Regions from separate parts of the Homo sapiens genome. Here region 2 is linked to region 1. The links come from fine-mapping of genetic effects on gene expression. A gene starts in region 1. The other region holds a variant in brackets. All regions are shown on one strand. Distances are from middle to middle.

What was found.
Region 2: its variant is fine-mapped to the expression of ELOVL6 in whole blood (TOPMed, PIP 0.98).

Annotation. Positions count from the first base shown.
Region 1 is chr4:110,195,977-110,201,350 of GRCh38, forward strand. It overlaps ELOVL6 (ELOVL fatty acid elongase 6), which reads right to left and starts at 2,639. Exons shown (of 4, transcript NM_024090.3): 1 at 2,271-2,639. The coding sequence starts at 2,359. RefSeq lists enhancers at 337-631, 2,220-3,012 and silencers at 366-475, 676-1,305.
Region 2 is chr4:110,163,331-110,168,704 of GRCh38, forward strand. The region is part of intron 1 of ELOVL6 (ELOVL fatty acid elongase 6); the gene reads right to left. Among named protein-coding and RNA genes, the nearest start is that of ELOVL6, 33 kb to the right of the region's middle. The variant G/A (reference allele first, on the strand shown) is at 2,309.

The DNA.
Region 1 (5,374 bases):
CCTAACAGGAGTAGATACGTTGGCACATTTTTGTCATTTTCAGTCCCACGAGGGCTGAGACCTGTCTGGCTCAGTACTGAGTGAATGGAGAGAAGAGGCGGGAAATGGTACCTGAAGCAGGCCTAGGAAGTGGCCTCAGAGAAAAAGCAACAAGTAAATAAGAGGCAGTATCGACTGCAGTGGGCTAGGAATGGCGGGCGTACAGTGAATGGGGTCAGCCAGCAAAGCGAGGGAAAGCGGACTCCGGAAGAGCAGGTTAAACCAGGACGCAGCAAGTCAGAGATTCGGCACAGAAGCAAATGCTGACCACACTGACCACACAGGCTAATGCGGGAGGACTGTGGGCCCGAACAGGCCGGCTGGAGGATATGACAAACATGTGCGGAGAAGACCCGGGCCCGGGGCTAGCCAGCAGCGCGGTTCCGGCGCCCGCCGGCTCCGGCCACCGCCCCCTCCCCGCCTCCAGCACCACCCCCTAAGCGGGAGGAGGAAGTGCATCCAGAGAAGGACCCCGGGCGGTGGGGCTCGAGGGGCCTCGGCTGCCCCGAAACGCCGAGGTCTATCTGCGGTCTCGACCCTTAGTGTCCAACCTCCTTCCGGACCCACCCCTGCACCCCCTGGCCTCAGCGGCCCGGGAGGGCACCAGCCCTGTGCCTGTGTGGCTGCTGCACTTCCAGTCCTTCCGAGCGGCCCGCGTCCCCGCCTCTTAGGCTCCGGCTCGGGCCAGACGCGGCCCTTGGGCCCCTAGCCCACCGCCGCCACCAGCCACGCCGCAGCTCACCCCAAGCAGGCCTGCCCCGCCGGTGCGCGCGGCCCAGGAGGCGGGCTCCGCCCGGCAGCCGCCGCAAATGGCCATTGGGGCCCGGACCAGCCCGCGGGAAGCTGGGAGTGGGCGCGCTCCGGCCGGGCGGGAGGAGAAGGAAGCGGCGGCCGGGCCTCCCGACACTGGCCGGCGACTCCAGGGGGCTGGAGGACAGGAAGTTGAAACCCCCTTTTCGCAGCTGCGGCCCCGTGGCACCAGCTCCTACTGCACCAACCCGCCCAGGCCACAGGCGCGCCGGCGTTTCTGGTTTCCAGTTGAAGAGGGCAGGCGGGAGGGCGCGGGGCACGCGCGCTCGCGCACGCGGCGGGCGGAATCCCCCGGCTCCCGGGAGACCCTGCGGCCCGACCCTCCCCGGTCAAGCCATCCCCCGGGCTGCCGGCCCCTTGCCTAGCTCCGGGGTGCGTTGGGCTTGAACTTTACAGATCGCCAGACCCGAAGTTAAGGGGAGGAGAGGAATGCCTCTGCCACAACCCTGTCTACAAGAAGCGAGATGAGCACACCCTCCTCTGTTAAATATTGCAAGGTGACACTGGATCGCCTCCCACACAGGGATTTTCAAAAGGTCTGGCGGGGGGACTACAGTAAACAAGAAAGGTGTTTTCCCTGATTATTAGTTTCCTAGGGAAGAGCCCCTAAGGACTCTGCAGACGGAGGGGCTTTTAATCTGTGTGCCTGAACTCCAATCAGCAGCTACGCACAGAATTAGAAGTGTGTCCAAAAGGCGTTTCCGTAAAACAGAAACTTAATAATGGCGTGGCTCCACTCGCTCGGGTTCATTCATTTATTACTGTTTTCATTGTCCCCTCCTCCCTCCCACCCGGTCTCTCTATGAAACCGGAAAGGGAACCGCGTGGGGAAAGGGGTACTAAAAAGGGGGCATCCGCCTGAGGAGCGGCAGACAGAGGAGGACGGTGAAGTAGGAGCGCTGCAAGGAGAAAGGAAGGACACGAGGGATGGAGAGACAGCGAGGACCAGGGCCAAGGGCGGCGGGCGGGAGAGGGTTAAAGGCAACAGGAGACAAGGTCCTCCCTCCACTGCCTTTCACACTCCGGTTGCGGGAGAGGCCAAGCGAGAAAACCCAAATCTAGATGAAAACCGGGGGAGGGGAGGGGAGCACAGGTAGGCGATCTGGACTGTGGCATCTCTCCCGCCTTCCCTGTCGCGCAGACATCACCCTGTGCACACACATATGTTCTGTGTTATATAATCTATATAAAAGATGCCTATGTAGCCGCGGTTCACACAGGGGCACCCACAGACCTCGCGCTTCATGTACCCCCCCCCCCCCAGCGTCTCCTGCACCCGGGAGACCCGAGAACTCAGCGATCAGCTGGCTGCCCGCGATTCATCGCTCCATTCACGCCCAGGCAGGGAATACCGACATTAAGGCACTCCGGGAAGACGCGCAGGGCTCCCGGGAACAGTATCAGGCGAAAGCATCACGTACCAGTTTTCCTGCATCCATTGGATGGCTTCATTCTCGTTGAACTGCTTTTCGAATTCATATTCTTGTAAAGTCAACACTGACATGTTCATTGGGGCTGATCTTCGGAGTCGCTACGTGTTCTCTATACAAAATAAAATAATCTGTAAAGCGCTTGATTTCGAGTGTTCTCCTGTCTGCTTCCCCCACCCACCCCCCTAGGTCTTCCCCACGCCGCTCGGTCTCCAGCGGTCGTCTCTTCTCCCAGCCTCTCAGCTACATCCAGGGCTGAGCATTGCCTGCGCCTCCGCTCCCAGCTCCTCTCTCTGGGGCTCTCCTCCTCCCGGCGTCCGCATCCACCGTAGGAGGAAATGAATGCCTTGCGGTCTTAGTGCCCGCACGTTTGTCCATCACCCTTTTTACTCGTCTACAGGGAAATCTCCTCCCCCTCGTGCGATTTGAGAAATTAACCCTTGGCGAGGGAGTGTGCGAAAGAGCGCGACCTCTCTCCGCCCGGGGGGGACAGTTTTGTTTACAGCGAAGGTGGTTGGAAGAGTGGGGGAAGGGCGCAGAGAGAAAGGAAGTGGCCTGGAGGTCATCCAGATCCCCTAAGCCCAACCTCGTGGGCCGCCTTGCTTTGAATGAAGTTTCAGCTTGCAGGGCGCATCCCCGCGGCGCGTGGACCCGAGAGCTTGGCGAGTAAACGATTGGGAAATAGTAAAACCTGCCAGCTCTCTTGCAAGAGAACTCCGGGCAAATCTACGTTGAGATCACCAGTGAAGGGAATACGCTTCCCACCTCCTCGCCCTACCTCTGGGACCACCCCCACCCCTACCCCCACCCCCACCCGGGAGCTCTGGCTTAGATTCACGCTAACCCAGGCCCTGCGGACGGCAGAGCTCCTTAATCTCGTACAGACAGGGGATGCTGAGTGTGAGGATAGTGGATAGGCGAGAGAGGCTAGTAGCCGGAAGTGGAAGAAAGGGCTGGGTTAGGTGGAGGGTTTAGGTACCGGGAAGGGGGGGATTAATGAACAGAGGCAGAGTGGGGAAGGAAGCTGACAGGAGAACTGGACCGACTGGCCAAATGCAAAAACTTTATTTGCATGCATGAGAAATTTGGCTTTACTTGCTGTACTTGTAGGTAGAACAGAATATGTGAGGAGAGGGCTGAATGTACTGTTGACCCCTACTGGGCCCTCAGCCTCCAAGAGGAAAAACTATTTTCTATTCCATCCATCCCTCCACTCATTTCCCCCAAGAGTTTGGAAAAATGAAATATGAGACATGGAAGTATCTAATGATGTAATTGTAAACTTTACAAAATAATAAGGAGCCCTGCTTTTAAAAATTAGGTGGATATTAGGACCAGAAAGAAAATTCCCCTTCTGAGAACATCCCCCCACCTCCCCAGTAGTCCAAAAAGGGTACTTTCATTCAATTTAGATGCCTCTAACCCACAAAAAGTGGGAACTGGGAGAAAAATTTTTAAAGGAGGAAGGGACCGGCCGCGGTGGTGGCTCACAGAAGTAATCCCAGCACTTTGGGAGGCCGAGGTGGGCGGATCACCTGAGGTCAGGAGTTCAAAACAGCCTGGCCAACATGGTGAAACTCCGTCTCTACTAAAAATATAAAAATCAGGCAGGCGTGGTGGCGGGCACCTGTAACCTCAGCTACTCAGGAGGCTGAGGCAGGAGAATCGCTTGAACCCGTGAGGTAGAGGTTGCAGTGAGCCAAAATTCTGCCACTGCACTCCAGCCTGGGCGACAGAGGGAGACTCTGTCTCCAAACAAACAAACAAAAAAAAAAAAGAGGAAGGTCTAATGAGAAAGTAAAGAAATAATTTTTAAAATCCAGTACAATATATAGATTAAAGGGCTAGCCTAGTTGATTAGCAAATTAATGTATACATTGACACTGCCAAAGATTCTGTGTAGGGACTGTCCTCATCTCCCCCATTAAGGGTTGTCTTTCTTTTTTCTTTTTCTTTTTTTTTTTGAGATGGAGGAGTCTCGCCCTGTTGCCCAGGCTGGAGTGCAGTGGTGCAAACTCGGCTCACTGCAACCTCCGCCTCCCAGGTTCAAATGGTTCTCTTGCCTCAGCCTCCCCAGTAGCTGGGATTATAGGCAAGCACCACCACGCCCGCCTAATTTTTGTGTTTTTAGTAGAGATGGGGTTTCACCATGTTGGCCAGGCTGGCTGTGATCCACCTGTCTCAGCCTCCCAAAGTTCTGGGATTACAGGCATGAGCCACCATGCCCAGCCAAGGGTTGTCTTTCTAGAGACCTCTACAGTACAAGTCTACGTCACTTTGAAGTAAGGCCCAGGCCAAAACTCTTGGCAAGATTGGGCTGGAAGATAGGTGTGGCCAGATAAGAAAGAACCATTTTAGCACGGTGCCTGAGCCTGTGAATAATCAATAAATATTTGTAAAGTGAATGATTCATCAAATAAATTAAGGTAAGAAGTGAGAAAGGAATCAAGACAGAAAATCCACTTTGGGTGGCTGAGGCAAGACAATTGCTAGAGACCAGACTGGGCAACATAGTGAGGCTCCATCTCTACAAAAAATTAAAAATTAGCCAGGTGTGGTGGTACATGCCTGTAATCCCAGTTACTCTGGAGGCTGAGATGGGAGGATAGCTTGAGCCTGGGAGGTCAAGGCTGCAGTGAGCCATGATCACACCACTGCAGTCCGGCTTGGGTGACAGAGTGAGACCTTATCTCAAAAACAAACAAGCACTGTCAGTGACTTTGAAAACTGGTGACTCTGTATGGAAAGCAATTTGGCAGCCTATATGATAATTTCATTTATTTTTTAGAGATGGGGACTTGTTATGTTTTCCACGCTAGGACTATAGGCACCCAGCATATATCACAATTTTAAATCCACACCATTAATTCACCAGAATTATTTTTTTTTTTGAGATGATGTCTCCCTCTGTTGCCCAGGCTGGAGTGCAGTGGCGCGATCTCGGCTCACTGCAACCTTTGCCTCCTGGGATCAAGTGAGTCTCCTGTCTCAGCCTTCCAAGTAGCTGGGATTACAGGAATGTGCCACCATGCCCAGCTAATTTTTGTATTTTTAGTACAGACAGGGTTTCACCATGTTGGCCAGGACGGTCTTGA
Region 2 (5,374 bases), 33 kb before region 1:
CAAGTCACCTCCTATCACACTATTTTCTTTATAGCAGTTAGCAACATCTAATGTTATTTTGTCTATATACTTGTTTACATGTTTAGTGTTTGTGTCCTAGTGGTATGAACGGTCTCTGAGAACAGCGGCCTTGTGCCTGGAACAGAGTCTGGCAAATACAGGCTCCTCAATAAATATTCATCAAACTGAGTCACTGAAATTTAACAGTTATGGACTGACCGCATAGTGTAGCAGACTGGGATGAAGGCCAAGTCTTATCATCAATGAGTATAAAATGCTAGAAGGGTGATATACAAGTCACAACTGACTTTAATATGAGAAAATCTACCACTGCCAAATGAAAAGCAAAAATGGAAGAGTTTAAGATTAAAAGTTCAAAACCTTAAAAGGTTGTATGAAGGTGGCAGCACTGAGTTGGGCTTTCTAAGTTTCAGAAATAGAGAAAGAAGAGAGATATTCCAGTGGTTTAATTTGCCAGGGTCATAAGATACTTATAGAGCAATGGGAGAACTAACTGTAAGATCGAATGGTGAGTTAAGGTCAAGGAATCTTCCTTATCAGGTGGGTAAATCTGAGTCATAGTGACAGGCAATTTGGGAGCAATGAAAAGTTCTTAGCCCTGGTTGTGACATGACATTTCTGAATGTGTAATGAGAAGTTCAAAAATGTTGGCTAGGAATTCATTACTCAGTTGAAAGCAAAATAATACTAAAATATCTGCTGAGAGTCATGCCAGTAAAAGCTACTTTTCATGGAGAGCCTAGAAAGTGCTGGACATTTTGTAAGCCATTGACACACCTTAACTAGTTTAATTATTACTACAGCCTAATTTGATTATCTCAATTTCACACTTAGAAATGGGGGCCTAGGGAGGTTAATGAATGTGCTCAAGTTCACCAAGTCATTAAGTAGCAAAGGCAGAATTGAAACTGTGTCTGAATCCACAGGTCCCAGAGTTTGATACACTGCTGCCCTGATGACAAGTTAAGGTGAGGGAAGATGAAGCCAAGGCCACCCTAGGAAAGGAAAAAGTAAAACGGTTTGTATAGCATGAGTATTCTGAGCTAGGCACTAAGGAAACACTTTGACCTAACTCAGCTTTCATAAGTCTGCCACAAGATGCCATGAACATTTGTCACAAGAAAGCAAGCACAGCCGGGTGAGGTGGCTCATGCCTGTAATCCCAGCACTTTGGGAAGCCAAGGCAGAAACAAGCTGAGGCAACGTGGCGAAAGCCCATCTCTACAAAAAATAGAAAAATTAGCCCGGTGTGGTGGCATGCACCTGTAGTCCCAGCTACTCAGGAGGATGAGGTGGGAGGACCGCTTGAGCCCAGGGAGGTCAAGGCTACAATGAGCCATGATCACGCCACTGCACTCCAGCCTGGGTGAAAGTGGGACCCTGTCTCAAAAAAAAAAAAAAAAAGAAAAAAAAAAAAACACTCAGGTTGGAAGGCAGGTGGGTTGGTAGGCTGCTCATTTATTTCTGATGAAAGAATTTCTTGTTTTGGGGAATTTCTTTTTTTTGAGACAGAGTCTCACTCTGTTGCCCAGGTTGGAGTGCAGTAGCACAATCACAGCTCACTACAACCTCTGCCCCCCAGGCTCAAGCAATCCTCCCACCTCAACCTCTCGAGGAGCTGGGACTACACGTGCACCCCACCACACCCAACTAAGAAAGGATTTCCTGAATGTAATGTGGTATGTGGCCTTTCTGTGCATTTAGTCTTTATCATGCCACCCAAATTGTGGTAAACATATAAGCTTGTAGAGCAGGTTTGATCTCTATTCTTCAAAAAGAGGACTGGTTTCTGACTAGCTGGACTAGCAAAACAGACCATTTGCTAGATATCTACAAACTATAAGCAACCCTCTCCATTATCCTCTCACAGAAAACAATACCAGGGCACCTGTTTAGTGGAACCATGTGCTATTGCCATTCATAGGCCAAAATAGTTAAGTATCGACAATTTACAGGAGGCCCTTCCACCATTATGTTCCTGATTTTGTGGTTCCTTCCTGTCTAGCAGACCTACTCCAACTCCTTAGCCTGGCTTCCAAGCTTCCAATCGACCCTCACAACCCAACTTTATTCCTCAAACCCCACATAAACCTTAGTCAGGCCAGGCTGATTCTCCTCTCAGCTACTGCTGCTCATCAAATCCTCCATTTTAATAGCACTGCAAGAAACAGGAGGGATGAGCTCAGGTTGTCTAGCTCAGAGACACAGCAGCCTGCACTTCAGCTTTGTTCTCTGTAGCACATGTGGCTGTGGTAGGCAGGAAGTAGCATGGTCTCAGGAGCTGGGC[G/A]GTTCTAATCTCATCTGAATCACACACAGAGATGAGTTAATCACTTCTTTGAGAGTCAGCTTCCTCAACTATAAAATAACAATTATGATGCATTCCTGTCAGAACTAACAGGAGGATTTTTGTAATAAAGTATGTGGAGCTGGCCAGGTAACACCTGCCTTGCAAAACCAAACATTTACCCATGCATTGGAGTGAACCCAAGGCTAATTCCCCAAGGACAATCCTATATCCTCTGCCAGAAGAGTTTAGCACATCTGGGAAGTGGGAAAAGAGGGTGGTCTTTTCCACGTAAGAAAACCAGTTAGGCTTCTCTACATCCCTAACAAATTATCAACCCACGATCCTGCTTTCAATACATCTGCCTCCTCTGTCAGTGACAGAGCCTCAGCACTCCTGGGACAGCTTATCAACAAAAGCCCAGCTCAGAGCTGATCTGGAGGAAAGATACTGTCAGCCTTCCCCTGGGTACTATAAATCCCAGCCTGCTATCAAGTGAGATCCTAGAGAAGTTGCTCAAGGCACATTCATTTCGCCCCTGGACTGCAGTGTTCTTTGACATTATATCCCTGATTTTCCTTCAAATGTTGTTGTCTTTGGGCTAGGACCTTGGTTTGTTCTTAACTTACTTGAGCAATAATGAGACATCACCTTTCTTTTCAGATAACAAGAATTCTCTTAAATTCTTGTGTTTCAGCCAGGCGCGGTGGCTCACGCCTGTAATCCCAGCACTTTGGGAGGCCAAGGCAGGTGGATCACGAGGTCAAGAGATCGAGACCATCCCGGCCAACAACCGTGAAACCCCATCTCTACTAAAAATATAAAAATTACCTGGGTGTGGTGGTACGCGCCCTGTAGTCCCAGCTACTAGAAGGGCTAAGGCAGGAGAATCGCTTGAACCCGGGAGGAGGGGTTGTAAATGAGCCGAGATCGCGCCACTGCACTCCAGCCTGGTGACAGTGAAACTCCGTCTCAAAAAAAAGAAAAAATTCTTGTGTTTCCACTTTTGCCCTTGCTGCCAGAAGGCAATGAACACTGCCTGTTAATCTCAGCATGGTCAGCCCTCATGGTTAGCATATAAGACATCATGAGTATTCTGGTGCTACCACCATGAAAGGAAACTCCGTCTTCCTTTTTCATCAACCCAACTATTAGCTCTCAAAGTCCCTGCCTTTTGCTGGAGTGTTTCTAAATTTCTTAGCACATAGTGATTTTCTATACTATAGTTACTATAATACTATATTCCAGCACTGGAATATTTGTTCTTTTTCTGTAGCATTCTACTGTATTTTGCATGTACATCTGCCTTCCTAAACAGACTGTGATCCAAATAAGTTGAAATATATACAGAGGGTCTGTCTGTCTGCCAATGCTAGGACATTGCCTTCTATTTCTTTGTCTTCTCACCTGTCTCCTGCATGTCAGGCACACTCTCATCATTTAGTAATCACCAGCTGACTTGACCCAAGAAGACCAAACAGTCTGAATGCACACAGTAGCTGAAGATCACAGGGTTTCAGTATCTCTCCACTGGCAAAAATATTAGGTGCATTGAGACACACTTCTGGTTCTCAGGAATAAAAACTTTATCCCATCTTCAAAATGTAATCGCTATTAGAGTATTTTTACATGCACAGTAAAAGGACTTGTGTTTTAGTACATACAGCGTTAAGTACTTAACCTTATACTAACTGTAAATATGTCTCTCTCTGTGTGTGTTTACAAATTGGCCTTGTTATTATACATGCTGTTTCATAAGCAGAGTTTTCTGCAACATGTGGTATACATTTTTTTTGTCAAGATATATTCTTCTATAATATAGTTTTAATGGTTACATAAGAGTTACTAAAGGATGTTTTTTTGGTTGCAGAGAGGGGAGTGAAGGGGGAACATTATAAATTTTATTTATTTTCTTGAGGCAGAGTCTCACTCTGTTGCCCAGGCTGGAGTGCAGTGGTGCAATGATCCTCAGCTTCCACAAGTAGCTGGGACTACAGGGTGCCTGCCACCACCTCAGTTATGTATGTATGTATGTATGTATGTATGTATGTATGTATGTATGTATGTATGTATGTTTGTATGTAGAGACAGGGTCTCCCTGTGCTGCTCAGGCTGGTCTCAAACTCCTGGCCTCAAGCCATCCTCCCACCCTGGCCTCCCAAAGTGCTGGGATTACAGGCGTGAGCTGCTGCACCCAACCTCTCTTATGCTTTTGGAGAGAAAAAATAAAACACCTATCTCCATGATTAGGGCTATTCTAACAGTTTGTACAAAACTTTCTGAGGCCTTGAGAGGCAGAAACATATCCAGGCAATTAAGGAAGTTCTTTCTTGTATTTTTGATATATAATTTTAGATTAAATGCTTAATTCCAATTGGAAGGTATAGTTAGAAAACGTCTACTACTTAAGATTAATATTTTAGTGGAAATTTTGTCTTTGTATCAATTTATGAACAGAGCCAAAATTTAAGTGAACATAAAAGAGATTCAATGAAAAAAAGTTAAAACCCTTTGAGAGTAAATCATTTTTAGGTGTATTTTTAGCTTATTGCATGAGAATTATATGGCTATAAATCATTAGAGTAAGGGTCAAATTCAGGCCAGTGTGATGGCTCATGCCTGTAATCCCAGCACTTTGGGAGTCTGAGGTGGGCAGATTGCTGGAAGCCCAGAGTTCGAGACCGGCTTGGGCAACAAGGCGAAACCCCGTCTCTACTAAAAAAATATGCAAAAGTTAGCTAGGCATGGTGTTGCATGCCTGTAATCCCAGCTACTTGGGTGACTGAGGCACAAAAATCACTTGAACCCAGGAGGCAGAGGCTGCTGTGAGCCAAGATCGTGCCATTGTACTCCAGCCTGGGCGACAGAGCAAGACTGTCTAAAAAAGAAAAAAAAAAAAAGTCAAATTCAATGGATGCAATCAGAACTTTTTCAAAAACTGCTCTCACGTGCTTTCATTGTGCAGAGCTCATTTAAACAAAATGAGCCCCACCATATGCTTTTCAAAATATCACCTTTGAAAATGGTTTCTGTAATTTTCCCAGTAGGTGCTGACGTCATAAGCCAAAG